5 separate regions of the Homo sapiens genome follow, and all the other regions are linked to region 2. The links come from fine-mapping of genetic effects on gene expression. A gene starts in region 2. Each other region holds a variant in brackets. All regions are shown on one strand. Distances are from middle to middle.

Region 1 (6,126 bases), 56 kb after region 2:
GGATAGTCACTGTATTTTTTATTCCTCTTGATATATTTCAAATATTGCAAAATACCCTTAGATTACATATCCCCAAGAACATCTAAAAGCGTTCCCAGTAACATTTGCTTAGTCCATTCACTCTCAAAAACACGCCAGTCTTCCTACCTGGAAACTTCTGTTGAGGGATGCGATGAAGGGGAGTGAGGCGTTTCAGTGCTGCCTCAGCCCAATCCTGATTCTCCGTGTGGCAGCGCCTTCTTGTGTTCTAGGTCGCCCCACAGAACCAGTTATGTGCTTACGCCTGTGTCTCTGTCTGTGCTGTTCCCTTCCTGGGCCAGCACCAGGCTGCTGGGCAGCGCCCTTGTTTGCAGTGTGGAAACACCCACTCTGGGGCTGGCACTATCTGTCGAGAATTTAAAAGTGATCATAAATCTGTATGAAAGCTGATGTGCTTTTCGTTATTACCATGCACCAGCAATTCCAGTCAGTGTCGGCCATACATCATCTGTCGTCTGTGTTCTGAATAATGGTTACTGTTGAGTTTTAATAACATAAATGTAAGCTTCAGATTCACACATTCTTATTACTTACCCTTTCGTAAACATTGTGTTTTATGTGGAAACTAATTTGGGGAACCCCCAGTCAATGGCCCTCACGTGCCAACTTGGCTGCATACCCCTGTTCCAAGACCACGTGCACAGCTTGGCATTGCTGGAGGGCGCTGGGCACACCTTGTGTCTCCCGCCTCTGTGGCGCTGTGGGCTCCTGGATGGAAGCAGGAGATGGGAAATAAACATGGATCGCTGAATGCAGTTTCTCTTCTCTGAGTTCGTCTTTTTTTTTTTTTTTTCCCCTGCTTTGAAGTTTTAGACAAGGTCAGTCAGACACTAGGTATTTGCCAGCAGCCAGGGTCAGTGCTGGGCCATGGAAGGGAAGCGGCCCGCTTCTTTCTCATGGCACCTTGAAGACGCGCCAGCGTGAAAGGCCTCTCACCGCGCATGACCATGGGGGCAGGACGTGAGGGCGCGGGTTAGTGTCAAAATAGGAAGAGGAGGCGAGCTTCAAGGACGGCTGGAGAAACCAGAAGGGCATTGTTTGAACACATCTTTCATCAGAAACTGGACTCATGAAGCCATGGGTCAAATCATGGCAGCGTTTGCATCATTCAGCTATTTTTCTGTCATTTTTGTAGAAAATGTAAGATTGCAGAGGTTTTTACCAGTATTATGAAGTTATATCATGAGGATGTGTGCGGTAGTAGAATTTTTCGACAGCAGAGACATTTGAAAGCCATTACAGTTGATCTTGAAGAAACAAAAGCATGGACGGTATTGTATTGTCTGGAATGTGTGTGAAATGCAGTTGTTCTAAAATTCTGCCACACTTTGCCCAGTGGATTTTTACTATTTCTATCCGTTGCCTCATTTGAAAGAAACTTTTTGAAATTAATAGAAAAGCAGTTTAACTCCAAAGAAACATTGACAGATATGACTAGTAACTGTTGAACATGATAAGGATTATGTTCAGGTCATTATGGATCATTGACAAATTGCAGAACATAAGGCTTAAAAATAAACTGTGCTGTTATTCATGAGTGAGATAAATAGGTGGGGTTGTTTCAAAAAATACACTAATGTTAAAAGTGTGACTCCATTATTTTGTTTCTCCTGTGACATGGATTCTTACTGACATGATTATAGATAAAGCTCGGTACACATTTTCACTGCATTTCTCTTCTGCCCATTGTGATTGATCATTCCTGATTTCTGAAAGTAACTGGGTTGTGGGGGAGGGTGGCGTGCGCTGTGCACCCCAGGGGTGGGGTCTGAGTCCTTGCTGCCGCTCCCCCCACTGAGGAGTGCTGCTGTCTGCTCTTGTTTTGAACAGCGCCATCATGACCGGGTCCTATAACAACTTCTTCAGGATGTTTGATAGAGACACGCGGAGGGATGTGACCCTGGAGGCCTCGAGAGAGAGCAGCAAACCGCGCGCCAGCCTCAAACCCCGGAAGGTGTGTACGGGGGGTAAGCGGAGGAAAGACGAGATCAGTGTGGACAGTCTGGACTTCAACAAGAAGATCCTGCACACAGCCTGGCACCCCGTGGACAATGTCATTGCCGTGGCTGCCACCAATAACTTGTACATATTCCAGGACAAAATCAACTAGAGACGCGAACGTGAGGACCAAGTCTTGTCTTGCATAGTTAAGCCGGACATTTTTCTGTCAGAGAAAAGGCATCATTGTCCGCTCCATTAAGAACAGTGACGCACCTGCTACTTCCCTTCACAGACACAGGAGAAAGCCGCCTCCGCTGGAGGCCCGGTGTGGTTCCGCCTCGGCGAGGCGCGAGACAGGCGCTGCTGCTCACGTGGAGACGCTCTCGAAGCAGAGTTGACGGACACTGCTCCCAAAAGGTCATTACTCAGAATAAATGTATTTATTTCAGTCCGAGCCTTCCTTTCCAATTTATAGACCAAAAAATTAACATCCAAGAGAAAAGTTATTGTCAGATACCGCTCTTTCTCCAACTTTCCCTCTTTCTCTGCCATCACACTTGGGCCTTCACTGCAGCGTGGTGTGGCCACCGTCCGTGTCCTCTCGGCCTTCCTCCGAGTCCAGGTGGACTCTGTGGATGTGTGGATGTGGCCCGAGCAGGCTCAGGCGGCCCCACTCACCCACAGCATCCGCCGCCACCCCTTCGGGTGTGAGCGCTCAATAAAAACAACACACTATAAAGTGTTTTTAAATCCAAACAGAAGTATTGTCTTTTTATTTAATTTTATTGCATAGAATGAAGTTATGCAGGGTTCTTCTTTGGAACTAACTGTTTGAGAAATGTGTGTCCTTCTTTGGCAGCGTGGGGGTATGTGTGCAGCATTTCTGTCCCCAAGCTGCTGCCCGCTGTGTTTCTGTAGAAGTAGCCCATC[A/G]GATACACCAGGTAAGGTCTGGGAAAAGCCAGAACCGAGGCCACCTCTGAGAAAGAAAATTGCAAGGAAGAACCAAAATTGCTGCCATCCAGTAAGCCTGGTTTAAAGTAGCTTCAAATTCACTACAGTTGAAGAAATACGTGCTTGCTTTCTAAGGCTTTTGAAAAAGCACTTTGGGGAAAGTATACTTTTTAAACATTGCTAAAATTACATGCATGCTAAATTTCATCCTGCATTTCAAGCCAGCAAAATTAAGCAATTTTAATTACACGATGCCACCAGTACGTTGGTTTATTTTCAAAGTAGGATCTTTGATACCAGAAATCAAGATTTTCCAAGACAAATAATACAGAGCTGTACCAATGCTGAGTGACCAGAGCTTGCTTCCGTGGGATTTAACACACGCCCACTACGTGTCCCCGAGGGGAGTGGGGAGTCGGGCTCCCGTGCCCCTGTGGAGATGGAGGTGTGTGCTGATCCCCCGTCCGCCTGTGGAGATGAAGGTGTGTGTTGATTCCTCCTGCTGCTGTGGAGATGGAGGTGTGTGCTGATCGCCCGTCACCCTGTCTAGATGAAGGTATGTGCTGATTGCCTGTGCCCCTGTGGAGAAGGAGGTGTGTGCTGATCCCCTGTGCCCTGTGGAGATGGAGGTGTGTGCTGCTCCCTCGTGCCCCTGTGGAGATGGAGGTGTGTGCTGATCCCCCATCCCATCCCCCTGTCTAGATGAAGGTGTGTGCTGATTCCTCATGCCCCTGTCTGGATGAAGGTGTGTGCTGATCCCCCGTCCCCCTGTGGAGATGAAGGTGTGTGCTGATCCCCCGTGCCCCTGTGGAGATGAAGGTGCGTGCTGATCCCCCATCTCCCTGTGGAGATGAAGGTGTGTGCTGATCCCCATCCCCCTGTGGAGATGAAGGGATATGCTGATCCCCTGTCCCACTGTGGAGATGAAGGGGTGTGCTGATCCCCCGTCCCCCTGTGGAGATGAAGGTGTGTGCTGATCCCCCATCTCCCTGTGGAGATGAAGGGGTGTGCCAATCCCCCGCGCCCCTGTGGAGATGGAGGCGTGTGCTGATCCCCATCCCCCTGTGGAGATGAAGGTGTGTGCTGATCCCCCATCCCCATGTGGAGATGAAGGGGTGTGTTGATCCCCTGTCCCCCTGTGGAGATGGTGTGTGCTGATCCCCGTCCCCCTGTGGAGATGAAGGTGTGTGCTGATCCCCCATCTCCCTGTGAAGATGAAGGGGTGTGCTGATCCCCCGTGCCCCTGTGGACATGGAGGCGTGTGCTGATCCCCCGTCCCCCTGTGGAGATGAAGGTGTGTGCTGATCCCCCATCCCCATGTGGAGATGAAGGGGTGTGTTGATCCCCCGTCCCCCTGTGGAGATGAAGGTGTGTGCTGATCCCCGTCCCCCTGTGGAGATGAAGGGGTGTGCTGATCCCCCATGCCCTGTGGAGATGGAGGTGTGTGCTGATCCCTCGTGCCCCTGTGGAGATAGAGGTGTGTACTGATCCCCTGTTCCCCTATCTAGATGAAGGTGTGTACTGCTGATCCCCCGTCCCCCTGTGGAGATGAAGGTGTGTGCTGATCCCCCATCCCCCTGTGGAGATGAAGGGGTGTGCTGATCCCCCGTCTTCCTGTGGAGATGAAGGTGTGTGCTGATTCCTCATGCCCCTGTGGAGATGGAGGTGTGTGCTGATCCCCCATCCCCCTGTGGGGATGAAGGTGTGTGCTGATCCCCCATCCCCCTGTGGAGATGAAGGGGTATGCTGATCCCCCGTCCCCCTGTGGAGATGAAGGTGTGTGCTGATCCCCCATCCCCCTGTGGAGATGAAGGGGTATGCTGATCCCCTGTCCCCCTGTGGGGATGAAGGTGTGTGCTGATCTCTTGTCCCCCTGTGGAGATGGAGGTGTGTGCTGATCCCCCATCCCCCTGTGGAGATGAAGATGTGTGCTGATCCCCCGTCCTCCTGTGGAGATGAAGGTGTGTGCTGCTTCCTCGTGCCCCTGTGGAGATGGAGGTGTGTGCTGGTCCCCCGTCCCCCTGTGGAGATGGAGGTGTGTGCTGATCCCCCGTCCCCCTGTGGAGATGGAGGCGTGTGCTGATCCCCCATCCCCCTGTGGAGATGAAGGCGTGTGCTGATCCGCCATCCCACTGTGGAGATGAAGGCGTGTGCTGATCCCCCATCCCCCTGTGGAGATAAAGGTGTGTGCTGATCCCCCATCCCCCTGTGGAGATGAAGGCGTGTGCTGATCCGCCATCCCACTGTGGAGATGAAGGCGTGTGCTGATCCCCCATCCCCCTGTGGAGATGAAGGCGTGTGCTCATCCCCCATCCCCCTGTGGAGATGAAGGCGTGTGCTGATCCGCCATCCCACTGTGGAGATGAAGGTGTGTGCTGATCCCCCATCCCCCTGTGGAGATGAAGGTGTGTGCTGATCCCCGGTCCCCCTGTGGAGATGAAGGTGTGTGCTGATCCCCCGTCCTCCTGTGGAGATGAAGGCGTGTGCTGATCCCCCGTCCCCCTGTGGAGATGAAGGCGTGTGCTGATCCGCCGTCCCCCTGTGGAGATGAAGGCGTGTGCTGATCCGCCATCCCCCTGTGGAGATGAAGGCGTGTGCTCATCCCCCATCCCCCTGTGGAGATGAAGGCGTGTGCTGATCCGCCATCCCACTGTGGAGATGAAGGTGTGTGCTGATCCCCCATCCCCCTGTGGAGATGAAGGCGTGTGCTGATCCCCGGTCCCCCTGTGGAGATGAAGGTGTGTGTTGATCCCCCATCCCCCTGTGGAGGTGAAGGTGTGTGCTGATTACTAATCCACATGGGCAAGAACAGGATGTCCGTCATTACCCTGAATCAATGCTAACACAGTGCCACTTGAGTTCACATTAAGTTAGAAATTGAGAATCTAAAGGTACCTTTATTTTAACTAAAAAATAATTTATATACTGTATATTGATTGTGACACAATTTACAAAGTCTGAGGTGTGGAACAGTTATTTAAGCATTAGTCAACCCTGGTCCTTAAGACAGTTCTAGTAAAATGGGATTGTATATATTTGTTCAACTATTTTGACCAAAAAGTTCAATAAATTTTAAATGTTTAACTGGATTTTCACTGCGTATTTGGACACCCTTTTCCATCTTCCTCTAGAATGTATTTCCCACTAAATAGCCCACCTCCTCCACCCCCAGGGCAGAGCAGAAGGTGCAGCCCA
Region 2 (6,126 bases):
GCTGGAGTGTAACGGCACGATCTCGGCTCACTGCAACCTCTGCTTCCCAGGTTGGAGGGATTCTCCTGTCTCAGCCTCCCAAGTAGCTAGGACTACAGACATACGGGCGCCACCACGCCCAGCTAATTTTTGTATTTTTAGTAGACAGGGGGTTTCGCCATGTTAGCCAGGCTGATCTCGAACTCCTGACCTCAGGTAACCTGCCAGACTTGGCCTCCCAAAGTGCTGGGATTACAGTCGTAATATATTCAAATGTTTAGTCTCCCCGACAGAGTGAGATTGGGTCCTATGTTACATAATACACGTGTCAGGAGCCCCTTCCTGAGTATTCATAGCTCCTCCCAAAGCCTGTTGTCTATGTATGTTTAGCCAACCCGTTCAGCATAGAGCTCCTGCCCCAACTCCTCCTCCTACGAAGAGCCATCTCCCATCTTGGCCTGGGGGATGGCCACCTTGCTGGCTGTAACCATTTATAAGAAATAAAGTTCCTCTTTTTCTAAATTTATAAATTGTCAGGTTTTTAAGTTAACAAATAAAAGAGATCTGGTCATTAATTCAGGTTTTCAAGTGTCTTCCTGGGCAGATAGGCTAAATCTACATTTTAAAAACAAGATTACAGCCCCATTTTTCTGCTCTTCTTCTCCTCAACAGAGAAGTAGGTATTCACTGCCTCTAGTTCCTCTCCTGCCACTGTCCCCAGAGCCCTCTGCAAACTTGTGATCTGAGTCCATTCCATAGCCACCGCTCCGTCCAAGTCAGTAATGGCCTCCCAGTCCCTACAACCAAATGGTCACTCCTGTATACTCATCACATAGCATCACAGAGCAGCCACTCCCTCCTGTCTTCAGTGGATCCTGGAGATGGGTTCTCCAGGAGCCCACCTCGCAGGCTGCTCACTCATCCTCCACGTCCTCACCCCTTCAGGGCTCTGTCCTTGGTCCTGTCCCCCATCTGTCCTCCCTCCTGAGGTGACCTCACCCAGTTTCCTGACTTGAAATGACCTCTAAATGCTCTCACCTTGATGCTCTGGCTCTGACTTCCCTGTGTGCTCCCAGCCTGTCTGTGCAACAGCACTATGTGTTGACAGCGAACCTCTGGTCGGGCTGCACCGCCCCCACCCAGCTGTGCCTTCTGCTGCAGAAACTCCATCCTTCCAGGTGCTCAGACCACCCGAGAGCAGGCATTCCTAAGTCCCTGCTTTCTCTCACACCGCATCTTTTCCATCAGCAAATCCCAGGGGCTCTGCTGTCGAAGCACTTTTCTCTGAAATCTGACTGGTTCTCACCACCCCACCCCATGTTCACCACTCTATCCTCATCCCCATGCCTGGTCAGCCCAGCTGGCCACCTGATTGGTCTCCCTGCTTCCCCTCTTTGGGTCCCCACAAGCTATTCTCAGCAGAGCATCCAAAAGCCCAAGTCCATCACGATCGTCTTCTGTTCATGAGCCCATCTCATTCAGAGTCCAAGTCCCCTAAATGGCCTGCCCACTGTCCATCCTCCTCCACTTACCTCCCTGCCTTGACTCCAACCCCTGGCCTCCCCTCCACTCACTCTGCACCCACGCAGCTTCTGGCTGCCTCCTGCCCATGCCAGGCATGGCCCTCCTTCCTGTCCTGGCACTTGGTGGTCTCCCCTTCCTGGCCAAGCTTTCCTAGACGTCTGCATGGTTTGCTCTTTATCCTTGAGTCTTCTCCAGTCACCCCGTGCAAGACTCCAACTCTCCCCATACACATTTCCTTCTTCCCTGATTTTTCTCTCCAGCTCCGACTTATTATGTATTTATTTCCTTATTGTCTGTCTCCCCCACTGAAAGGTAAGCTCTACCAGGGCTGAGATTTCTCTGCTCTGTTAACCTCTCACCCCCAGGGCTGTGGAGTGTGCCGCACGTGGCAGGAGCTGTCAATAAATAATATTAATGGAGTGGACGAATGTTCCTGATTTGCAGCGACTGTCTTTTAGTGGTGCAATACCATCAGTGCCCACCGCAGCTACCCTGAAAGAAGTTCTGATTCCGGACATCAATCCCATAGGGACAGTCCCCCTGATGATAGCTCGACTTCAGATTTTTCAACTTTACGACGGGTAGATTGGGTATTAGATGCATTTTTGACTTAGGAAGGGCTTATTTGCGGGGAGGGTAGCCCCACTGTAAGTCGAGGAGCACCCATGATCGCTCAGTATGCCAGAGAAAACCACCCGCAAATGAAACGATCGGCCCTGTTTCCCTAAGACTGCACTGGGAGCTCCAAGAACCCCTAAGGTAGCCATCTGGTGAGCAACGGTGCGCTCCGAAAGGGAGGTGGACAGGATTGGGAGACCGAGGCCGGCAGATGGCTCGAGCCCAGGAGTTCGAGACCAGCCTGAGCAACATAGACCCCCGTCTCTACAAAAAATTTAAAAATCAGCGAGCCTGGCGGCGCGTGCCTGTGCTCGCAGCTACTTCCGAGGCTGAAGCAGTAGGATGGATTGAGCCCAGGAGGTCGAGGCTTTTAGGGAGTCGAGATCGCGCCCCCGCACTCCAGCCCGGGGAACAGAGCGAGACTCCGCGTCGGGGGCAGTGGGCGGGAGGCAGCGCTCAGGTACGGCGCGCTCAGGTGAGGCCGGCCCACATGCCCGCCCACCGCCGCCAAGCGCGTCCTCCATTGGCGGTTCCACGGAGAACCCACGTTTCCATTGGCCGATGCGGGATGGGGGCGTGTCCGGCCAAGCGGCGCCCTGAAGGCGTGTCCGGCCGCAGCTTAGGCTCTCCGGGAGTCCCCGGAGAGTAGGGGCGGCCGGCGGCGCTAGTCTTCTGGGGAGCGCCGGGTGCACACCGGACCACTGCGGGAGGCCTAGGGCCGAGGGCCGAGGAGCTGGCCTGCGCCCGGCGACCCCGGCTTCCCTCCGCAGTCGCCCAGGCGTCCCTTCCCCCCTACAGCCGAGCGGCGCCGGGCGCAGGCGCATTGGGCGCCCCCGGCAGCCCCCGCGGCCCGCCCCGTCCGCTGCCCGTCCGAGGAGGCGGAGGGCGATGACGTCATCGAGCGGGGCGACGGGCATTGGGCGCCATTTTGAAAAGGGAAAAAAATCCCTCCCCGGCGGCGGCGGCGGCGGCGGCGGCGCCGGCGGTGGTGGCGGCCCCGGGGCTGAGCGCTCGGCTGCAGCGGCGCGGAGGCCGTCTCCCTGGTCTGCCGCGGTCCCCGCCCGTCCCGCCGCCGGCTGCCATGGCAGGTGAGGGGTCTGCGCGGGCCGGCGGGGACCACGGGGGCGGGCGGGGGCCGCGGCCGGCCTGACCGCCCCGTTGTGTTTGCAGGAGCCGGAGGCGGCGGCTGCCCCGCGGGCGGCAACGACTTCCAGTGGTGCTTCTCGCAGGTCAAGGGGGCCATCGACGAGGACGTGGCCGAAGGTGAGCCCCGCGCCGCGCCCCGCCCCGGGACCCTCGCGGACAGCTCCCAGCCCGGCCGCGCGCGGCCTCCGGGCCCCAAGCGTCCGTGGAAGGCAGGCAGGAGGATGGGGGCCGGGCGGGGCAGGGGCCAGGGGCCGAGCTGGGGGCCGTGATCGGGGGGCGGCCGTCCTCTGTCCGCTGTCCCGGCCCGCGGGGCACGGGCGGAGGCGTCGGGCCCGCGGCGGGACTTATGTAAGTCACCAAGGTCACGGGCGGCCGGGTCCTCCGAACCCAGCGCCTGGGGCTGCCTCCTGCCCGGGGCGGAACCGAAGCCCGGGGCTGCCTCCTGCCTGGGGCGGAACTGAGGAGACCGCGGCGGAGCCGGGGACGGGAACGGAGTCCATATCGTGCGCTCGGGCAGCGCGGCACAATGGCCCAGAGGCTGGGAACGCGCCTAGGGCTGGGTCGGGGCCTCGGCCCCCACCAGGCTCTGCGTTTCATCGGCGGTGCGCTCTTGAGCGAGCTGGTTGCCTCGGCTCCCTGATTCTTAAGGTCTGCTTTCTGCGGTTCTAAAATCCTTGAATTTTACTGTGAGGTACTGCTACTTTCTCTACTGATATATTTTAAGGTCTCTATTCCAGATTTTAGTCTTGAACTTCATGGTATTACTTGAAGTTCACTGGTCTTTTCCTTAAATCATACTCTCAAATTGGCCCAGGCACAAAGTTTTAGGGTGGTGGGAGGGAACTGGGAAGTGCCTCCCACCCCAGCTTCCCATGAAGCTTACCTGTCACCTTAAAGTTAAAAAGCTATGTAGCTTTCCTTTTTCACCGTTGAATGGAGAACTTGGTCGAGTCTTAGAAGTTTGATTAATATTTCAGATTCAGAGTCATAGTGACTTTTTTGTTGTTGTTCATACATCTTACTGAACATTGTAAACCTTTAACCTTTTCTTAAAAATGATTGGTGTTTGCACCAAATACACCTTCCCTGCCTCAAGTTACTAAAAGCCCCTTGTCAGACGTCCTGTTCACTTCCCTCCATCTCGGCCCCCCCAACCCCGTGAACTTTTACTCCCTCTTCCCTACCCTGTACCTCTCCCTGGCAGTGTCTGGTTTGGCACATGACCCCTGAGGACATCTGGAGATTCTGCGCCCCCTGGGACAAACAGGGCCTAGGTTATTAAGCAGGTGAAACTGGGCTCTAAGAAATGCGTAATATATATGGTTTGAGATTAAAACTAGGTGCATTTTATGTGATCTAAAAAGTTTATTGATTTTATTTCTTTAAAATGCATTACTTTTTTTGTTTGATTTTGCATATGCTAAGCAAGTGACAGTTCAGCCTTACTCAAGTGTGATTTCTGTCGCAAGTAAAGCAAAACTTGTTTGGGAGTAGGAAAGTGAGAGGGCTTAATGCTTGCCTTAATTTCTGTTAACTCTTTATTTTGTTTTTTGGAGACAGGGTCTCACTTTGTAGCCCAGGCTGGATGGAGTGCAGTGGTGCGATCTGGGCTCACTGCAACCTCTGCCTCCTAGGCTCAAGCGATTCGCCCACCTCAGTCTCTGAAGTAGCTAGGACCACACACACGCGTGCACCACCACACCAGGCTAATTTTTGTATTGTTGTAGGGGATTTCGCCATGTTGCCCAGGCTGGTCTTGAACTCCTGGGCTCAAGTGGTCTGCCCACGTCAGTCTCCCAAGGTGCTGAGATTATAGGCGTGAGCCACCGCACCTGCCTGGTTTCTTTACTTAAAAAAAAAAAAATTATTGATAAGCTGAATGAATTAAAATTTAAGTATAACTAAGGTAGTATATTTTAAATGTGACTGTACACATATGAAAATAGTATTCTTTCTTTAAAAAAAATCTTGGGCCGGGTGTTGTGGCTCATGCCTATAATTCCAGCACTTTGGGAGGCCAAGGTGGACAGATCACTTGAGGTCAGGAGTTTGAGACCAGCCTGGCCAACACAGTGAAACCCCGTCTCTGCTAAAAATACAGAAGTTAGCCGGGCGTGGTGGCACATGCATGTAATCCCAGCTACCTGGGAGGCTGAGGCAGGAGAATCACTTGAACCCGGGTGGTGGAGGTTGCAGTGAGTGGAGATCGTGCCATTGCCCTCCAGCCTGGACAATAGAACAAGGCTCCATCTCAAAAAAAAAAAAAAAAAAAAAAAATCTTGACAAATACTTTGTTCTCTGAATTAAACTGATGGGAACTTTTTGCAGTTTTAAATCCCTATTTTAAGTTAAATTTTGAGTAAATCCAAAAGTTTGGTATTTCGAGTTGTCGTGGTTTCTTTTGTAACATTGCTTTGTGGTAATTATCTGCATGTGTTTTGGTTATTCTGTGTATTCAGAGCTGTCTATTTTAATCCATGTATGCTTTGGCCATAGTAACCCATCCAGATTAACACATTTATAAGTCACCATCGATTTGTCCCATAGTTGTGATACCGTTGCTTTGTATTAACACCAGAGAGTCAGTGATGATGAAGGGAAGTGTAGTCGTTAGTCACCAGGGATTGCTGAGCAGCAAGGATCAAGAAGCTGGTCATGCCCAAACGCAACCTTGAGGGAGAGATGTTGGTGAGAGATAAGAGATGGGTGGCTGGGTACGGTGACTCACACCTGTAACCCCAGCACTCTGGGAGGCTGAGGCGGGTGGATCACTTGAGGTCAGGAGTTTGAGACTAGCCTGGCCAATATGGCGAAACCCCATCTCTACTAAAAATACAAAAATTAGCCAGGCGTGGCAGG
Region 3 (6,126 bases), 95 kb after region 2:
AATTTGATGAAATTTACATCTGTAGACACCACAAGACCGTCAGGATAATGAACATGCCCGTTATCTCCAAAAGGTTCCTCATCTGGCTGCTTCCACTCAGTGTAATGACTTTGGGATTCGTCGGTGATGCATGCATTCATCAGTAGTCGGTTCCTCTTTATGGCTGAGCAGCATCCGTTGTATGGATGTGCCACCATTTGTTTACTGTTCACCTGTTGGACATTTGGGATGTTTTCAGTTCTTGCCGCTGGCAAATCGAGCTGCTGGGAACGTTCACATTCATGTGCCAGCGTTTGTATCGACATGTTCTTTCATTTCTTGCAGGTAAATGCCATGGAGTGCAGCGGCTGGGTCGTATGGGGAGGGTGTGCTTAGCTTTTTAAGGAGCTGCCATCGTGTTCTCCAAAGTGCTCGCACATGTTACTTTCCCAGCAGCAGGAGAGTGCCAGTGGCTGAACACCCACGCCAACTGTGGTTTAGCCGGGCTTTTTAATTGTAGCCATTCTAATGGGTGTGTGCTGCCGTCTCGTGATTTTAACTTGCATTTCCCTATCGTGACATCTTTTCATAAACCCACAAACTTTGCTTGCCATTTGTATATCTTCCTTAGTGAAGTGTCAGTTCAAATCTTTCGCCTAGTTTTTAACTGGGTTGTGTTATTTAGTTCTGAGTTCTGTGTTTATTCTGGATACAAGTCCTTCTGTCAGATATGTGTTTGCAAATATTTACACCTAGTCTATGGTTTGCCTTTTCATAAGTGTCTTTGGAAAAACAAAGTTTTCAATTTTTACAAAGTCCAATTTATTGATTTCCTTAATAGTTCATGCTTCTTGTGTCCTAGTATATTAGTTTTCTGTAGCTGCTATAACAAATTACCACAAAGTTATTCTCTCACAGTTCTTGAGGCCAGAAGTTCAACATCAGTTTCACTGGGCAGAAACCAAGGTGCCAGCAGGGCTGCACTCCCTCCAGAGGCTCCAGGGGAAATTTTTTTTTGAGACAGGGCTTCACTCTGTCATCCAGGCTGGAGTGCAGTGGCACAGTCACAGCTGGCTCACTGCAGCCTTGACCTCCCGGGCTCAAGCAATCCTCCCACCTCAGCCTCCCAAGTAGCTGGAAATACAAGTGCATGTCACCCCATCCAGCTAAATTTTGTATTTTTTTTAGACCTGGGATTTCCCCATGTTGCCCAGGCTACTCTTGAACTCCTGGGCGCAAGTGATCTGCCGATCTAGGCCTTCTGGAGTGCTGGGATTATAGGCGTGAGCCACCCCTGGTGCCAGCATAGAAGGGGTAGTGCTTGTGCTTCATGCTCCACCTCGATGGCCATGGTTTACCTGCAGGACTGGCTGACTCTGCTGTCCTGGCCATGTGGCTGCTCTTTGTTCCTGCCCAGTTCTCAAATCTGGGCCCTCCCAGCCACCTGTGAGCCCTCCAACACTGTCAGCAAAGGTGTTTTCCAATTCCATCAGCCAGAGCTGGTCTCTATTACTTGCAACTCAGAAGCTTTCCTGATAAAGCATGTTTACCAGAAGTCCATCGTGAGCACCGTGCTTGGCTGTGAAATATGAGTGGCATTTCCATTTCAGTGGGCAGCAGGCCAGTGGCTGTCATCAGCACCCCTGCTACTCAGCTGTGTTCTGAGGGGCTTAGGCCATGCCCTAAGGCAGGATGGAGAAATGAAGTTTTTCAAATACCAAACAGACACACTGTCTCTATTGCCCACTATCATCCCCACCGTATGTAAGCTCCATGAGGGTATGGATCCTTGTCTTTTAGGGTCACTGCTGTACATTGAGCACCTAGAACCATGCCTGGTATATAGCAGGTATTCTGTTAACATTTGCTGAATATAAATTCACAAAGAATAGTAAAATTGTTCACCTAAAAAATCCAAGAAAATCAACTGAAAAACTATTTGACAAATAAGAATGCAATAAAGTATGTGTTGAGAGGTGAGCATGTATAAATCAGTAGCTTTCTTATATGCTGGTGATGACCATTTTAGAGATGAACACCACCTCATTTGTAAGAGCAACAACAACAAAATCTAAGAATAAATTTAAGAAGAAATGTTCAAGGAAAGGCTTGTGCCTGTCATCCCAGTTACTCAGGAGGCTGAAGTGGGAGGATCTCTTAAGCCCAGGAGTTTGAAACCAGCCTGGACAATATAAAGAGACCTCATCTCTTAAAAAAGTAAAAAATAAAAGTTTTTTTAATTTTAAAAAAAGATTTGGGAGGCTGAGGTGGGAAGATCCCTTGAGGCCAGGAGTTCGAGACCAGCCTAGGCAACGTGGCAAAAACTCATCTATACAAAAAATTAGGTGGGCATAGTGGCAGGTGCCTGTGGTCCCAGCTACCTGGAGGCCGAGGTCAGAGGATCACCTGAGCCTGGGAGGTCGAGGCTGCAGTGAGCCAAGATCGTACCACTGCACTCCAGCCTGGGCAACAGAGTGAGAGAGTGAGACCCCTGTCTCAAAAAAAGAAAAATGTTCAAGACTCAAGACACGTACAAAGAAAATCATAAAACTTTATGTTAAAATATAACAGACACTATTCAGGGCCCCCAGATCCTACCCAGGACTGCACCCAAGCTGACCGGGTCTTCTCTAAAAACAGAAAAAGAAGCCATTACTAAGGATTATAAGACATAGCGTGTTCTTAAAGGACAAAACTGATCATAACGGTGATCATAAAGACAGCTCAGCTTCTCCTTTGCCTTATCTGGGCCCCACAATGTTCTGAGCACTTGCCATTGAATGACCCGTTTAACACTGTCCAGGACTCATGCAGGCAGGAATTATACTGTTCTTTTTTTACAGAGTGGCGCATCCGTTTTATTGAGGTAAAATGGATTTTTGTACATTCACTCCATGACTGAACTGAAAAGATATCCACCACCCACATAATAGGCAAAGGATTAGTAACGGAATATGCAAATGGATCTAAAAATCACAGTAAATGTACAAACAACACAATCTTTTTTTTTGTTTGTTTTTGAGACAGGGTCTGGTTCTGTCGCCCAGGCTGGAATGCAGTGGTGTGATCTCAGCTCACTGCAACCTCGTTCTCCTGGGCTCAAGCAGCCATCCCACCTCAGCTACCTGAGTAGTTGGGACTACAGGTGCACCCCTCTGTGCCCAGCTAATTTTTTTTTCTTTCTTTCTTTCTTTTTTTTTTTTTGTAGAGACAGGGTCCCACCATTTTGCCCAGGCTGGTCTCAAACTCCTGAGCCAAGTGATCCACCTGCCTCAGCCTCCCAAAGCACTGGGATGACAGGCGTGAGCCACCATACCCGGCCCCAGCAGTACAATCTGGTAAGTCGAAAAAGAACTGGCACCTCATGAAAACAGAGAAATGGCCAATGAACTGAAAAGACGCGCAGCCTTAGCAGCCGCAGGGACGTCATGCTGAAGCAATGAAGCCCTTCCTCCTCTCCGGCTGTGCTCACTGCTGGGAACTGGCAGCTC[A/G]GGGGTCTCGGTCCTGCCTGCTTCCCCTCCACGGCCCCTCGCTGCCTGTAGCTCCTCACGCCTTAGTCCAGCTCCATCTGCTCATTCCCTGGAGTGCACCCTCAGCTGCCTTGTCCCTCTCACCCAGTTGGCCAAGCCCAGCTGGGCACCGGGCCTGCACCCAAGCTGCCAGGAGTGGAAAGAGAGGAGACACAGCCATGTGGATTGGTTTCATTTTAAATTCATGGCCACCAGCTCAAGTGGACACTTGTTGACTGCTACATTTCCCCAGCCTGGTACCACCCAAACATGTCCTCGTGTCCTGGCACACAGAGAGGGCAGAGCTGGGATCACACTGCCTGCCCCTCTAAATGAAAGGTTGCTGAGCAGAGCGGGAAGCTGCACCTTTGCAGGCAGGTCAAGGACCTGGCTTCTGGGACCCAGGGGGACCCCATGTGAAGGGGAGTGGGGCTGGGCTTGTCTAGAATCTGCCTGAAGTGGGGACCTGGAAGAGTGAAACTGAAGGAGGCTGGAAGTATTCACCCGAAGGCAGAGAGACTCCAGACCCCGAAAAAGTGGCCCAAGAGGGACAGTCAGCTTTGGTCACCTGGGAGCCCAAGCAGTGTGTAGGCAGCAAAGACCCCCGGCCCTTGCCGCTGGCCTTTGGGCTGTCCCCAGAGGGTCAGGAGCTACAACTGGAGAGGAAGTGGGCAGAGCCCAGGCTGGAGCAGGAGGCATTTCAACTCAGAGTAAAGTTGGGAGTTTTGATGGTTACACCGGCCAGGACACAAAAATTACTTCAGTGAGACCAAATCGAAAATGGGCATGAAAACGGGGCCAGATTTTCACCCGGTGGTGGGTGTGGGGTGGGGAAGAACACTGGGGGAAGGAACAATACAAGTGATTTGTTTCTCTTCTATTAATAACTCGCAAAGCTGCAAAAGTGGGTGGGGGCTTATTCAAATGAATGTAATTCTTCTGTTACCTTCAAACATCAGTGACACTATATGCACAGGGGACCATCAGGGGGCGGGCGCTGGAGGGGTAATTCTTCCACCTCTGTGGCACCCAGCTGTGCGCCTGCAGACTGATCTGTCTCCCTCCCTCTTGCAGGAAAACACTTTTCTATGAATTCACAATGATATTTGTACTATGCTGGGGCTATTGTTAGGAGTTGGTATGATGAAATATTCCGCATTGTAAACAGTGTGCACACAAACATGTCTCGAGTGTGTACTTGTACTTTGCTGGTGAGTGGAAAGCAGAGGGTGATCTTTGAAAAGAGGCTGGACTGCTTGCTGGAAAACCTTCAAAACAGGAAGCAGCCACTAGATTCAAGTCACATTCCTGCCGGAGGCTAGACGTGATCCCCCAGGCCGGAATCCCAGCAGTGCTGGGCGGGCGTGTTTATTTGTCCTTGGGTACATGAAGCAATAGCTCCGTTGCTCCTCCGTGAGAGATTGCAGAATGTTCTGGCTGGAATAACCAGTCAAGGTAGTGTCAGAAGACAGAGTTACAGCAGATCTAGTTTAGAGGCCTTCATTGGCTTGCGTTTGCTCTTCTAGAATGGGCAACACCTCGTTCGATAAAATAGAGAAAAGGGCCGAGGAAAGCAGAAACCAGAACAGAAAGCTGATTGGTCTTTTCACAGTTAAAGGTTTAAGCAGAGGGCTTCCCTACTGTGCTAGCTGAAACTGGCCTGTTTGGGGATTTGGCTACGATCTCCTTCTCTCCTGATTTCTTAGAAGCTCAAACAATTTTCTCTTGGTGGTGTGGAAACTCAGCGCAAACAACCCTGTTTGGGTTTGGTCTGTTGGGCTTAGTGCGGGAGCCCTGCCCAAAGCCAGTGCCTCCTGTCAATTTCACTGCACACTGACATGGGACCAACATGCCTAACACTCGTCTGTCCCGTGGACCCTGTCTCTTTCATTTTTTTATTTTTAGTTTTTAGAGACAGGGTCTTGCTCTGTCTCCTAGGCTGGAGCGCAGTGGTGCAATCACAGGTCACTGCAGCCCTGACCTCCTGGGCTCAAGGGATCCCCTCTTCTCAGCTTCCCAAGGAGCTGGGACTGCAGGCATGTGCCACCAGGCCTGGCTAATTTTTTATTTTTTGTAGAAACAAGTTCTCACTATATTGCCCAGGCTGATCTCAAACTCCTGGCCTCAAGTGATCCTCCCACCTAGGCCTCCCGAAATGTTGGTATTACAGGCATGAGCCGCTACACCCGGCTCTGTCTCTTTCAAAGCACAAGTCCACAGTTTTGCTGACACGTGGTGGCGATGGGGAAAGGTCAGCAGGGAGTAGAGAAGAGAACACAGGCTTTTGCCACTGTGTGAGGTGGCAGTGGGAGAGTCTGCAGATAGCAGGGGAGCAGAAAGCAGGGGACAGCTAGGGCTGGTATCTGGGCTCTGCTACTAAGAAGCTGTGTCACTTGGAGAAGCGACTCACCTCTGTGAAGGTCCCCATCTTTAAAATGAGGGTGACCACAACAGCACTGCCCTCTGAGGCTGCCATGATTCCGTGAGTTCACGAGGGCACTGCATTTGGTGCCTGGCAAATTACAGTGCTTGGTGGGTGGTGCCTGTGCCTGACACTCCTGCCCTGTGTTGTTACCTCCTAATAGCCAGCGAGGGGAGGTGTGCTTTCCTTATCTCGCACAGGAGGGGACTGAGGCTC
Region 4 (6,126 bases), 33 kb after region 2:
CCCCACTGGGTGTCCTGGCTGAGACCAGCCCAGGTGTCCTGCCCCACTCACCCGCAGGGGCTTGCTACCTTGAGCACGCAGGGTCCCACGTCCAGCATCCCTCTCCTCTCCCCTCCATCAGGCGGGGATGATGATAGCCCTGCTTCCTGGGGCTCTTAGAGGCCTGGCTACGTTAGTACAGGGCTTGTGCGTGGTTAGGATAGCACCTGGCTCCTAGTAAGCATTCAGCCAAACCCTGGTACTGTAGCGGCTGGTAGTAGTCAGCAGATCTCCAGAACATGATTCGGGCTTTCCCGTCTCTCTTTGTTCAGATTCCATCCTTGTTTTTGTTTTTTTGTTATTTTTTACTGAGATGGAATCTTGCTTTGTTGCCCAGGCTGGAGTGCAGTGGCGTGATCTCAGCTTCCTGCAATCCCCACCTCCCTGGTTCAAGCGATTCTCCTGCCTCAGCCTCCCGAGTAGCTGTGATTATAGATACACACCACCATGCCTAGCTGATTTTTGTATTTTTAGTAGAGATGGGGCTTTGCCATGTTGGCCAGGCTGGTCTCGAACTCCTGACCTCAGGTGATCCACCCGCCTTGGCCTCCCAAAGTGCTGGGATTACAGGCATGAGCCACTGCGCCTGGCCCCACCCATCTTTGTTTTGGTGACTTCTTGAGGCTCTGCAGGTCGTGGCTGTTGGTTTCTATTTCTGAGTGTAGCGAGGCTGCTGTTTCTGTGGGCCTGGGCTTTTCAGCTGGCAGCTTCACTGTGGTTGGCCATGTCCTTGTAAAACCCAAATGTTTGAATATTGAGGCCCTTTCCCCAGGGCTGGAGTATTTCGGAGGGCACCCCTGGGGATGGCGGCCGGTAGCCAGTGTCTGAGGAACAAGAAACTGTGTGCTCCCACCTGGCAGGGTGAATGGGGGGCGACCTGGGGACCAAGCAGCTCTGTGAAGACTTTCTGCATCTCTGTGCCAGCCCCTTGCTGCCCCCACGTTTGTTAAAGCTGCTCACATAGATGCTTTTTCTGCTTTCTTCTGACACCTGGGCGGGGGTGGGAGGGTAAAGGAGATGAACACACACGCATGGCCCACCATGTTCGGCGGGAGGTCTGAGAGGACTCGGGGTGGCTGCGGACACTTTGCGGATTTGATGGGACCCGGATGTTGAATGAGGATTGCACAGCCAGACAGCCAGCTGGCAGCAGTGCCACGGCAGGTGGAGTGTGACATGGCAGTGGGGCCTGTCTGGCTGAGAAGAGACCCGATGTCTCCATGGGATGGCCAGGAGGTGCCAGGCTGTACCGTGGGCAGAAGCACTCCCCTACCCCAGCAGGGAAATGGAGGCAGAACGCAGCCATGGTGAAGTTTATGGTAGTTTAAAATACCTAACTCACTTTGGGAAGCTGAGGCAAGTTGATCACTTGAGACTGAAGCGGGCTGATGACGTGAGGCCAGGAATTCGAGACAATTCTGGTCAACATGGCAAAACCCTGTCTCTACTAAAAATACAAAAATTAGCTGGGTGTGGTGGTGCACGCCTGTAATCCCGGCGACGCAGGAGGCTGAGACATGAGAATCACTTGCACCCTGGAGATGGAGGTTGCGGTGAGCCAAGATCGCGCCACTGTACTCCAGCCTGTCTCAAAAAAAAAAAAAAAAAAAAAACACACAAAAAAAACCTAACTTGGTGCCTTTAGTACCATATTTATGCCTTCAGCATCAGTCTGGTTTTTAAAAACTGTCTCCATCAGATTAATTTGATGTTGATAATTTAAACGTTGTTGGTTTTGTAATTTTGTGTATTTAGTTTGGGTTTAGAGATTGAGCACTGCAGTGTTTCTAATTTTAGGTTCACGCGTGTTTGTGTAGCTTAATGAAACTTCCCAGCACCGACAGTTACAGGAGTTTCTCTTTTAAAAGACTCAGTCCATTATAATTAAGTTTGAAAATCACTGACAGAGCTAGAATACAATTAATTATGTAATTTTATACACCCTCTGGGTATAAATGACATAGATTTAGACCTTTTTAATCCAATACATAATATTTTAGTTTCATTTAAGCAAGTTAGGTTATTTTCAGTAATTTAATAGTGACGCTTCTAAGAAACAACCTAATCCTTCTTCCAAAGTCTGAAGATTTTGAAAAGAAAGAACTCCCAGGCCAGGGATTCCCGTGTGAGGCCAGCGAACAGTGCCAGCCGCGGGAGCTTGCTGTGTAGATGTTGGTGGAAATCCTTCACTAACACGATTAAAACGCCTTTGCAGACCTGTCAGAATTGCATTCTAGCCACTTTTGGAGGGAGCTGTTTGAGTCACTTCAGCTTTAGGGCCCATTTCTTCTTAGTAGGTTGTTTACAATAGCCATTTAGTTGTTTTTTTACTTCCTACTATAAACGTACCGTGGGCCCTGGGTGTGCCCAGGTCACTGCGAGCCCTTGAGTTGGTGCCCAGCAGGGAGGCGAGCTTGTAGTGTTCTAGCTGTTCCTGAGACTCCCCCACACTGCAGGGTAAGGCGAGGAGTCCCACTGTGGCCATAGGACAAGCTCTGATGGCCCCTCGGGAGGCCACGCCAGGCCTTATCCTCAGTCCGCACGCGACACAGCAGCACTGCGGAGAAGCCAGCCTCCTCCAGAGTCTGTCATGGAACTCCCCCTGAAAACAGAAAATCTTTGTCCAAGTCACAGACCTGGGATTTTTTTTTTTTAATTTAATAGTTGGTCATAAATCCAGACACTCCCTTCCCAACCCGAAGGGTTAGCCTCAGGACACCTGAGGACTTTCTCACTGCTTAGTGGTGGTGTTCCTTCTGCCCCGGGGTCTTGGCCTCTGTTGAGCTGGTGTCTGGGGTCTTTGTTATGCTGTCAGAGATCTCAAGGCCTCCCTGACAGTTGTCTCACTTGGTAATGATGTCATCATTATCAGTGGTGGTAACTGTATCCAGACAATGACATGGAACTTCTACTGTCTAGAATATTACATTGTACAGAAGCCAACAAAAGTTATTGCATAGAATATTAACAACATTTTTATTACTATTATATAAGAATCAGATTTATTTTAAAAGTTAACATTAGGTATGCATTATAAAATTAGGCAACATTCTTCAGGACCCATTTTTTTCCTCTATTTTTTTCTTTTACAGATGAATTTTCTAAATTTCTACCCTTTATCCTTTTATCAAGACAACCTAGTCTAGATAAATCCTGGTGCTCCAGGGGCCCAGGCATGGGGGTGGAGTAAAACTCGCCCATTCACCTGTGCCGGCAGGTTCTCTGCACCAGAACCAATAAGTGGCCACTTGGTAATTACAAGTTTGCCAAGACAGTTTTGCTTTAGTCTCGGAGAAAGTTGTATATGTTTATCGTCCTTTTGCTCTTTTTTATTAATTTTTTGGTATTGTGACTCCTCCCCAAAACCGCATCCGGTAAATCGCTTCTGTATTTTGTTGACAGCGGACATCATTTCCACCGTTGAGTTTAATTACTCTGGAGATCTTCTTGCAACAGGAGACAAGGGCGGCAGAGTTGTTATTTTTCAGCGTGAACAAGAGGTCAGTAATTTTCAGTCCACAAATCAAATGCAATTATTCAACCTTTCGCATATAACTTAGA[A/G]GGGAGGAAGCAAAATTATTTTCTCATTGTCTCATTTCATTAAGATTCAGTTCCATCACATTAGCCATACAGAATCTCCTTTCAGAAATTATCTAAGTTCTGGCCTCAGCTGCTGAGCCCCGGTGAAGTCTCCAAGGCCTTTGTCTTCAGAGTAGGGAGGAGATTCCGCTGGGGACCCCATGAAGGATGCAGGGTGGTGGTGAGGTGCATTTATGTGCTTTCATTCCATAAGAACTCACGCGGCTCTCTCTGAAAATCCCTTTATACGCCTATGCAGGTACTGGCCCAGCCCCGCCGTCCTGCCCTGCCATGAAGTGTGAGCAGCTTTCTCAGCACTTCCTGCAGAGAAGTCTGGCAGGGGTGTGAATTCTCTCTTCCCTTCAGGGAGAGGTGAGCAGCACTCACTCCTCCATGCCCCCTTGAAGGCTTCACCTGTCTGGAGGGAAGGGAACCTTCAGAGTGTGGGCCTTGGAGGAGCCCACAGCTCATAAGCAAGCACTGGCTTCCCGGTCACGGCACTGCCTTTTCACTGATGCCTTGCCAGCCCCCTCCCTCTTCTTTCTGTTGAGCCTCCTCAGAGGTCCTAATGAGCAGTGATAAAGGAAGCAAGATCATGATTTGGTAGTCAAGGATTCCTGGCAAGAACCCTGGCTCTGTGCAGCTAAGCCTGGGGTCTGAAATATTTGTCCTGCCTTTTCCTTATAAATACAGTCCCTTGCCCTTCCTGTCTCTGAGTTTCCTAACAGATGAAAGGGACAGTTTATCATCTCCAAAGTCTGGTCTCTAAATTTGTGTGACGAACTTTGGTTTAGAGGTTGGTGGGCCCTGGTTCCCCTCTCTGCAGATCTGTACACAGGAAGTGCTGGCCCTGCCCCCCAGGAAGGGGAGCCTGGAGGAGGACTGTCCCTGGGCCACATGAGGAAAATTGACAGGTGCTAACCAATTTCATTATCAAAACATACCTGTTGCAGCTTTATTTTGATTATGTCCAGGTAGTTAAAGATTTTTTTAAATCCTGTTTTCTCTGATTTGGGATGGTAAGAAATCCTTTTGTGAATAATAAGTATATCGTTAATATTTCTTCACAGTTTGATACATTTATAATTTTGCATTTTTATCTCAGAAGTAGAATATCACACAATGCTACTTAAGAACCATATACCTTGGCCAGGCGCAGTGGCTCACGCCTGTAATCCCAGCAATTTGGGAGGCCGAGGTGGGCTGATCACCTGAGGTCGGAAGTTCAAGACTAGCCTGACCAACATGGAGAAACCCTGTCTCTACGAAAAATACAAAATTAGCCGGGTGTGGTGGCACATGCCTGTAATCCCAGCTACTTGGGAGGCTGAGGCAGGAGAATCGCTTGAACCCAGGAGGCAGAGGTTGCGGTGAGCCAAGATCGTGCCATTGCACTCCAGCCTGGGCAACAAGAGTGAGACTTCATCTCAAAAAAAAAAAGAACCATACACCTTACCTTTCTCAACAGAAGTAAAAGTGGGTTGTGGTGTTTAAATGTTACTTTTAAAGCAGGAGGAGTTTTTGTTTTTTTGAGATGGAGTCTTGCTCTGTCACCTGGGCTGGAGTGCAATGGCGTGATCTTGGCTCACTGCAACCTCTGTCTCCCGGGTTTAAGTGGTTCGCCCTGACTCAGCCTCCCAAGTCGCTGGGATTACAGGCATGCACCACCACGACCAGCTAATTTTTGTATTTTAGTAGCGATGGGGTTTCACCGTTGGCCAGGTTGGTCTTGAACTCCTGACCTCAGGTGATCCGCCCACCTCGGCCTCCCAAAGTGCTGGGATTACAGGCATGGGCCACCACGCCTGGCCAGCAGGAGGATTTTTTAACAAATTGTTGAGTCATGGCTATCTTAATGCAAGACTTCACTTTTAGCTTATTTAAAAAGTCTGTCATTGTAGCGATAGCCTTAGGGAAGATGCCTCATCCCTGCCTAACAGATTTTAGGTTAGAAAATGGAATTTCTCTTGTTTTTGTGAATCGTTGCTTAACCTAAATAATAATAGTCTCAAATATAAAACAAACCCTGATAAAAGTCAAGCATCTCGTTCTAAAAGATATTGGGTATTATAGAGTGTTAAGTGCTTTTTTAAGATGAAGTTGTTATGTGAGTGACAGATTTATACAGGAGCAAGTCCCTACTGAAGTTGTTCAGCCAGCTGCAACTTGACAAACCCCAGGCAGCCTTTTTTCTTTTTCTTCGTATTTCGGTTCACGTCTGAAAGGCTTTCACGGTCCATCCATTTTAGAGCATTCGGCTGGTTGCCCCATGTGCCCTTCCCTGTGGACTTGAGTGTGTCTGTGGGTAAGGGCGGCAGTGCACGTGTTCATCCATGGCCGGAGGCCGCGGATGGTGTTGCAGCCGCCAAGAGGGTGAAGCTGCTGCCCATCAAGCGACCCCAGCTCCCAGTTAGAAGCTGCAGCAAGGTTCACAGGCGTCCACGTGTGCGTCTTAGAATCGAAGGAGCGTGGAGGATTCGGAAGGCTAGTGAGTGAGCACCAGATTGT
Region 5 (6,126 bases), 41 kb after region 2:
CTCCAGAAAACACGGCAGGCTGCATTCGGCAGACCTGCTCCAGAAAACACGGCAGGCTGCATTCGGCAGACCTGCTCCAGAAAACACGGCAGGCTGCATTCGGCAGACCTGCTCCAGAAAACACGGCAGGCTGCATTCGGCAGACCTGCTCCAGAAAATACGGCAGGCTGTATTTGGCAGACCTGCTCCAGAGAACACGGCAGGCTGCGTTTGGCAGACCTGCTTCAGAAAATACGGCAGGCTGCATTCAGCAGACCTGCTCCAGAAAACACAGCAGGCTACATTCGACAGGCTGAATTCGGCAGACCTGCTCCAGAAAATACGGCAGGCTGCATTCGGCAGGCCTGCTTCAGAAAATACGGCAGGCTGCATTTGACAGACCTGCTCCAGAAAATACAGCAAGGCTGCATTCGGCAGACCTGCTCCAGATGCATACCTAGAAGTGGAGTCGAAGAGTCGGAAATCAAGTTCGTTCTTTTTTTTTTTTTTTTCCCTGAGTTTCATCTGAGATTTTTTTGAGCCAGGATTTTTTAGCTTTAAAAAATATGTATGGTCATTTGATATTCAAATTTATAGTACTGAAATTTTCTCTACACTGTGCTTTGTTCATTAAAACAGCTCTCATGTTTCCTTGCAGAATAAAAGCCGCCCTCATTCTAGGGGAGAATATAATGTTTACAGCACCTTTCAAAGTCATGAACCGGAGTTTGACTATTTGAAAAGTCTAGAAATTGAGGAAAAAATTAATAAAATTAGGTGGTTACCACAACAGAATGCTGCTCATTTTCTACTGTCTACAAATGGTAAGAATTGTGTTCTAAGTGGCTGTTTGATTTAGTTTTTTATTTTTAATTTTCTGTGTGTGTGTAGATTCCTTTTTATTTTAGAAGTTATTCCTGCTTTAAATTTTGGGGGGAGGGTAAGTTATCTAGGGTAGCAAGTGATAGGTTGAAAATTCAAAGTATGCAACAAAAACCACACGTGCACTTTATTATGCTGTTACTCTGCACGTCTGCACATCTTTCTTTATTGTACAAAACACCTCCAATTGGAAATATTCATGTTCAGAGACCCCATAGCTTATAACCCAATATAGGACCACACCGCTTTCTAATACCAGTACTCAAACAGTAGTGATGCATGTTATAGTTTTTCTTTTCATATGGAGAATGAGGTTTTTATTTTCAGATAAAACTATAAAATTATGGAAAATAAGTGAACGGGATAAAAGAGCAGAAGGTTATAACCTGAAAGACGAAGATGGAAGACTTCGAGACCCATTTAGGATCACGGCGCTACGGGTACACGTTGCCTTTGCTTTATCCAATGCTGTTGAGAAGTTAAGAATAAACGTTTCAGTCTGCTGTCTGGAGAGTGCTGCGCGGTGGAGTACTGTGAGGTCTGCTGTGAGGTCTGCCTCGTGATTCCTGAAAGTCGTTTGCACTCATGTGTGTGTTTAAAAGCAAGGTCTTTCTCCTGTTTTCACAAAGGCAGAAAGTCACATGTGGTCCTTAGGAAACACAGCAATACTAAGGGGAAAACTCATATTTAATTCTACAGCAGAAATCTTTGTGGACATAGCAACCACCCTTCTCTCAGAAGGTTCAGAACAGCACCTGGGAGGTTGGAGTTCAGATGAAATTCAGAACACCTCACAGGTGCAGTAGCACAGGTTGCAGGTCGAAAGATGAGCTGTGGGCCACAGGTACATTCAGGACGCTTCTCGGGGAATTTCTTTGGGGTTGGTTTAGGCAGATGCTGATGGTTCAGAACTCTCCACCTGTCCATCCATGAGCATCATTACTTTTTTAATTGTTAAATTATTTGCTCCATTGTTGGTAGTATGAAATGATCATATTTCATCAATTCTGATGCCTAAATTTTTTCATATTTTAACATTTATGAAACCGGCTAAAACTCAAAACCTCAATGTCTTATAATTGGCCTGGTGCTACGCACCACTGATGTTGTCTTAAATTAGATGGAACATGGTGAAGGGTGTCCGGCAAACTGGGCTCGAGCCCAGGTGTGTCTTGGTGAGAAACCAGCACCTGTGCAGAGGTGTGTCCCCTGGAAGGAAACTCTGCCTGGTCCCAAGGGGGTGCCGTTACTAGATTGGAAAACCGTTGGTTGTTTGGGTGGTTGGGTGGTTTGGTTGCGGGGGGTGGGTGGTTGAGTTGGGTGGTTTGGTTGGTTTTTAATGAGATTTCAGCCCCTTTTACACTATTGTTTATCAAGTGAAGACTGAGTGAGTGAGCCCATTCCACATTAGTCTTGGAGAGTGCTACAGAGGACGCTGTACCGCAGAAGCCTTTCCCTAACACATGTGCCTCTGGGAGTGATGTTGGGTCTGTTCTGATGCCATTTCTCCAGCTTTGCCGTGTGGGGTGGCTACACCTGGGGTTGTGCATTCCTCAGGAGGAGTGTCCTCAGACTTCTCACATCGATGTTGTCACCGTATTTCCTATGAGTTCATCAAAGCGAGAAAGGCTGTGGCATTTGCTGAAAATCTAGTTTATAGGGTCCTAATTTGAACCAAGATGTTTTGATCCAAAATGTTGGTGATGTCTGATACACAGTGCTGCCGCCTTTGCACCCCTGAATTAGTGTAAATCACTTTTAGTGACAGTAACACGAGTTGTGCAGTTCCATCATCATGAAACTGCTGATCCTAAAGTAGAAGTGTGATGGGACCCCC[G/A]AGGGTGGGCACTTGACCCCCTCCAGCCTTGTCCATCTCTTCTGCAGCCAACACCACCTCCCACCCAGTTACCTGTGCACACCCCACCCTCAGAAACCCCTGTTCCTCCTGATCAGACCCTGCCACAACCCATCAGCTCACGTGCTCATTTTGGGAGAACAGTAGGCCTTTACTAGGCCCAGTCTTGGTTTTATTCAAGGCTGCTTTTGTAGGTTTAGCCTAAATAAAACGGGTATAATTGGTGGCCCTACTGAAGGTGTGTGAGAAGTCTAGTTATTTCATTAGTTGGTGCATGGGGAAGAGACCACAGACAGGTAATTCTGTACATTGACTTAGGTCGGTATTTGAGATCTTACCTCTCTAACAGTTCAGAGTGGGCTATTTATGTATCTGAGCCTAACTGGGTAAGAGTCAGACATGTTGCTGTTTTTAAATTTTTGCTCTTAAATTATTTTAGTGCCAGAAAAGGGATATAATTAAAAGAAGAAATCTTGGCCAGGTATGGTGGCTCATACCTGTAATCCCAGCACTTTGGGAGACCGAGATGGGAGGATCACTTGAGCCCAGGAGTTCAAAGACCAGCCTGGGCAACATAGCCAGACCCCATCTCTAAAAATGAAAGCAAATTATTTTATATGCAAATTAAAATGTTTTCAATAAAAGAAGGAATCTTTGTAAGTATTGCAGCTATCATATGTTTTGATTAATGGGAAATTTGTTAGAGGATTGGGGTAGGTGTGTGTTTTTAAGCCTGAACTTGGTAGAACTGACTCTTCTTGCTCTAGAGAATCCAAGGGTGTGGTCAGCACTACCTGGGTTAAAATGAGGGAAGCCTCCCTACACACACTTTTCCAAGTTGGTTTTTTACAGAATTCAGCCAGACAAGACTCAGTTGAGAGCTTTTCTTTTTCCCCTAAGCTTTCAAGGCTCTCCCTTTTGGTTTCTAATTACAAGAATAACAAAAAATACTATCATTAATTTTTTGTTTTGATTTTAAAGCTTATGTTTTTCTTCCAGCTGGATGTTAGTGAGACACAGGCCTTTTTCCTTTTTTCATGTGTGATGCTATTCCTCACGCCTGAGCTCTCACCTCTGACCATAGGCGGCCTGCAGCCAGCGCCCACTCCTCTCTGTCCTTTCTATTTCTGTGCGAATTGGGCTTCCCTAGGAAGCCTCCCTGACCACAGCACTCAACACAGAGATGGGGGCGGGAGGTACCTTCTACTTTTTGTTTTAACCTCAAGTGAAGTGTAATATATAATACATACCTCCAGATAAGACATCTGCCCTATAAGTGACCAGCTCCATGAATGTTTGTAGGGTGCACATGCCCATGTAGCCAGCCCCAGACCAAGAAATGGAATATCCTCAGCTCCCCAGCACCCTGCTGTGCACCCTGCCAGTACCTGGAGCCAGTGGAGGTTTGTGGGGTTTGCACCGAGAAGCATAGTCCTAGTGCAGTGAGAAGAGGTGTGTGCATCTAGCTGCAAGGAGAGGACAAAGGGAGGGGTGCAGCTGAGCCACCCAGGAGGACTTTGCTGTCCAGCGCCTCAGTGTGGCCACTGGAGGACACACAGGAGAGGGAGCCGCAGGCCTCGGTGCCTGGGCAGTTTGTTACCCTGCCAGCTGATCTTCTCTTCAGCAGGAACATGTCGACCTCGGTAATGGAAGCAAGGGGAAGACTTGGAATAGACAGTATTCCATTTTGTAGCATATTTTCATAACTCTGCTAATTGGTTATTTGGGGGTATTGCCTGTACAGAATTATTACTTAGCCATGAATATAAACTTGTCCTCTTTCGTTATCTACTATAAGTGTTCTAATTATGTGCTGCTGTGATCTTTGTTTTGAATTCCTATTTCCTTCCATTTTTAGGTCCCAATATTGAAGCCCATGGATCTTATGGTAGAAGCGAGTCCACGGCGAATTTTTGCAAATGCTCACACATATCATATAAATTCCATTTCAGTAAATAGTGATCATGAAACATATCTTTCTGCAGATGACCTGAGAATTAATTTATGGCACTTAGAAATCACAGATAGAAGCTTTAGTATCCTTCCTCAGAGGGACACTGGCGTCTTCCCGAGGGTGCTCTTTAGATAGTAATTTCTCTCGTCCCTTTATACACCTGTATCTCGGAGTCTAGTCTTGTAAATACCATCACTGCACAGCAGCCTGTGATGTAAGTTCTCTGTGATTTGAAATGTTTGTCCCTAAAAATACAAATTTCTTTCTACCTTTGGGAAAAAGTTATCTGTATAATGGGAATTACCTGAAGTCCACTGCCTGCCTGGTTTAATCAGAGGCAGTTTTAAATAGGCTACATTTGAAAAACCAACATTATGTGTTCTTTTTTTTTTTCTAAATTTGCTAATGAATAATAGAAAATACTGGCTTAGGTTAGAGCAGTGTTTAATCACCCATCTGAGCAGCAGCTTCCAGTTAGAACCTGTGTTCTTCTGTGGCTGTGCACAGTCTGGGTGGCCCCAGCCCTCCTCACATGGGCCCCTTTCCAGCCAGCAGCCGGGAGCATGGGGCTTGCTTCGTCTGCAGCCTCTCCAGGGTCCCTGCCGTCCTCCCTCTGCTGTCCAGTGGCTTGAGCTGGGGTTCCATGTCGTATGTTGGTTTTCTTAGTTGTTTCAGCTTGAAGGGTGAAACTGGGACTGCTAGTCTGAATTGGCCCACAGCTGAATTCTGCCCTTTCTTATTTTTTTCAGTTGAAGGATTTCTGTATAGGATTTCTGTTGGATCTGTTCTAGCTACACAGAATAAGCTCTTCATGTCAGGAAGAGCAGCATCTTTTGGAATTTGGCGGCATTCTTGTGTTGTAGTTTTGTGTGGGAGTGTGGGATTTTGCACAGATGGTACTAGCTTGGTTTTCCTATTTATATGATTAAGTATGTACTATCTTGCTATTAAGGGCTTTCTGTATAACATTAATAATAGCAGCAAGATGAAAGCGGTGTTCGCTTGTCTGTGTCTCCCCCTGGGCCGGGGCGTTGCTGTAGTCTGAGTGTGCTCATCCCAATCCCCTTACCAGGCGCTCCTTTGGAATTCGGGATGTGTAACCAGCCTTCTTAATAGCTAATCCCTTAAACCTCACTGCGTGGATTATTTGGCGTCCTATTTCGCGTGACTGAATGTAGACTAATTAACAACCAGCTGAGCTGAGCACTGTGCCTTAACCATGCACTCCCAGACATCGTGGACATCAAGCCTGCTAACATGGAGGAGCTGACCGAAGTCATCACTGCAGCCGAGTTCCACCCGCACCAGTGCAACGTGTTCGTCTACAGCAGTAGCAAAGGGACCATCCGCCTGTGTGACATGCGCTCCTCGGCCCTGTGCGACAGACACTCCAAGTGTAAGTGCGTCTGTTGTTGAGATGGAGTCTGGCTCTGTCACCCAGGCTGCGGTGCAGTGA

Alleles and levels. Alleles are on the strand shown, and positions count from the first base shown. SD is a standard deviation of normalised expression in the study named. Not every link is listed here.
As copies of A replace G in region 3, the expression in whole blood of the gene that starts at base 3,062 in region 2 goes down (small effect, 0.36 SD a copy in Lepik 2017).

Evidence for each region. PIP is the estimated chance that this variant, and not a neighbour inherited with it, causes the effect. A credible set is the group of variants that fine-mapping cannot tell apart.
Region 1: its variant is the best candidate, but not a certain one, in a credible set for the expression of PPP2R2D in vagina (GTEx, PIP 0.54).
Region 3: its variant is the best candidate, but not a certain one, in a credible set for the expression of PPP2R2D in whole blood (Lepik 2017, PIP 0.69).
Region 4: its variant is the best candidate, but not a certain one, in a credible set for the expression of PPP2R2D in whole blood (INTERVAL, PIP 0.71).
Region 5: its variant is the best candidate, but not a certain one, in a credible set for the expression of PPP2R2D in Th1/17 cells (Schmiedel 2018, PIP 0.68).

The regions. Positions count from the first base shown.
Region 1 is chr10:131,953,815-131,959,940 of GRCh38, forward strand. PPP2R2D (protein phosphatase 2 regulatory subunit Bdelta) reads left to right here. Exons shown (of 9, transcript NM_018461.5): 9 at 1,870-6,020. The coding sequence ends at 2,149. Among named protein-coding and RNA genes, the nearest start is that of BNIP3, 25 kb to the right of the region's middle. The variant A/G (reference allele first, on the strand shown) is at 2,911.
Region 2 is chr10:131,897,947-131,904,072 of GRCh38, forward strand. PPP2R2D (protein phosphatase 2 regulatory subunit Bdelta) reads left to right here and starts at 3,062. Exons shown (of 9, transcript NM_018461.5): 1 at 3,062-3,209; 2 at 3,292-3,384. The coding sequence starts at 3,203. RefSeq lists an enhancer at 2,322-2,421 and silencers at 2,662-3,171, 3,242-3,641, 3,822-3,871.
Region 3 is chr10:131,993,055-131,999,180 of GRCh38, forward strand. It overlaps LOC124902525 (a long non-coding RNA gene), which reads left to right and starts at 3,287. Exons shown (of 2, transcript XR_007062339.1): 1 at 3,287-3,317. RefSeq lists an enhancer at 2,976-3,962. The variant A/G (reference allele first, on the strand shown) is at 3,471.
Region 4 is chr10:131,931,017-131,937,142 of GRCh38, forward strand. PPP2R2D (protein phosphatase 2 regulatory subunit Bdelta) reads left to right here. Exons shown (of 9, transcript NM_018461.5): 3 at 3,442-3,539. Among named protein-coding and RNA genes, the nearest start is that of PPP2R2D, 33 kb to the left of the region's middle. RefSeq lists an enhancer at 3,345-4,544. The variant A/G (reference allele first, on the strand shown) is at 3,601.
Region 5 is chr10:131,939,394-131,945,519 of GRCh38, forward strand. PPP2R2D (protein phosphatase 2 regulatory subunit Bdelta) reads left to right here. Exons shown (of 9, transcript NM_018461.5): 4 at 638-803; 5 at 1,189-1,301; 6 at 4,575-4,752; 7 at 5,902-6,066. Among named protein-coding and RNA genes, the nearest start is that of BNIP3, 39 kb to the right of the region's middle. RefSeq lists an enhancer at 5,562-6,126. The variant G/A (reference allele first, on the strand shown) is at 2,699.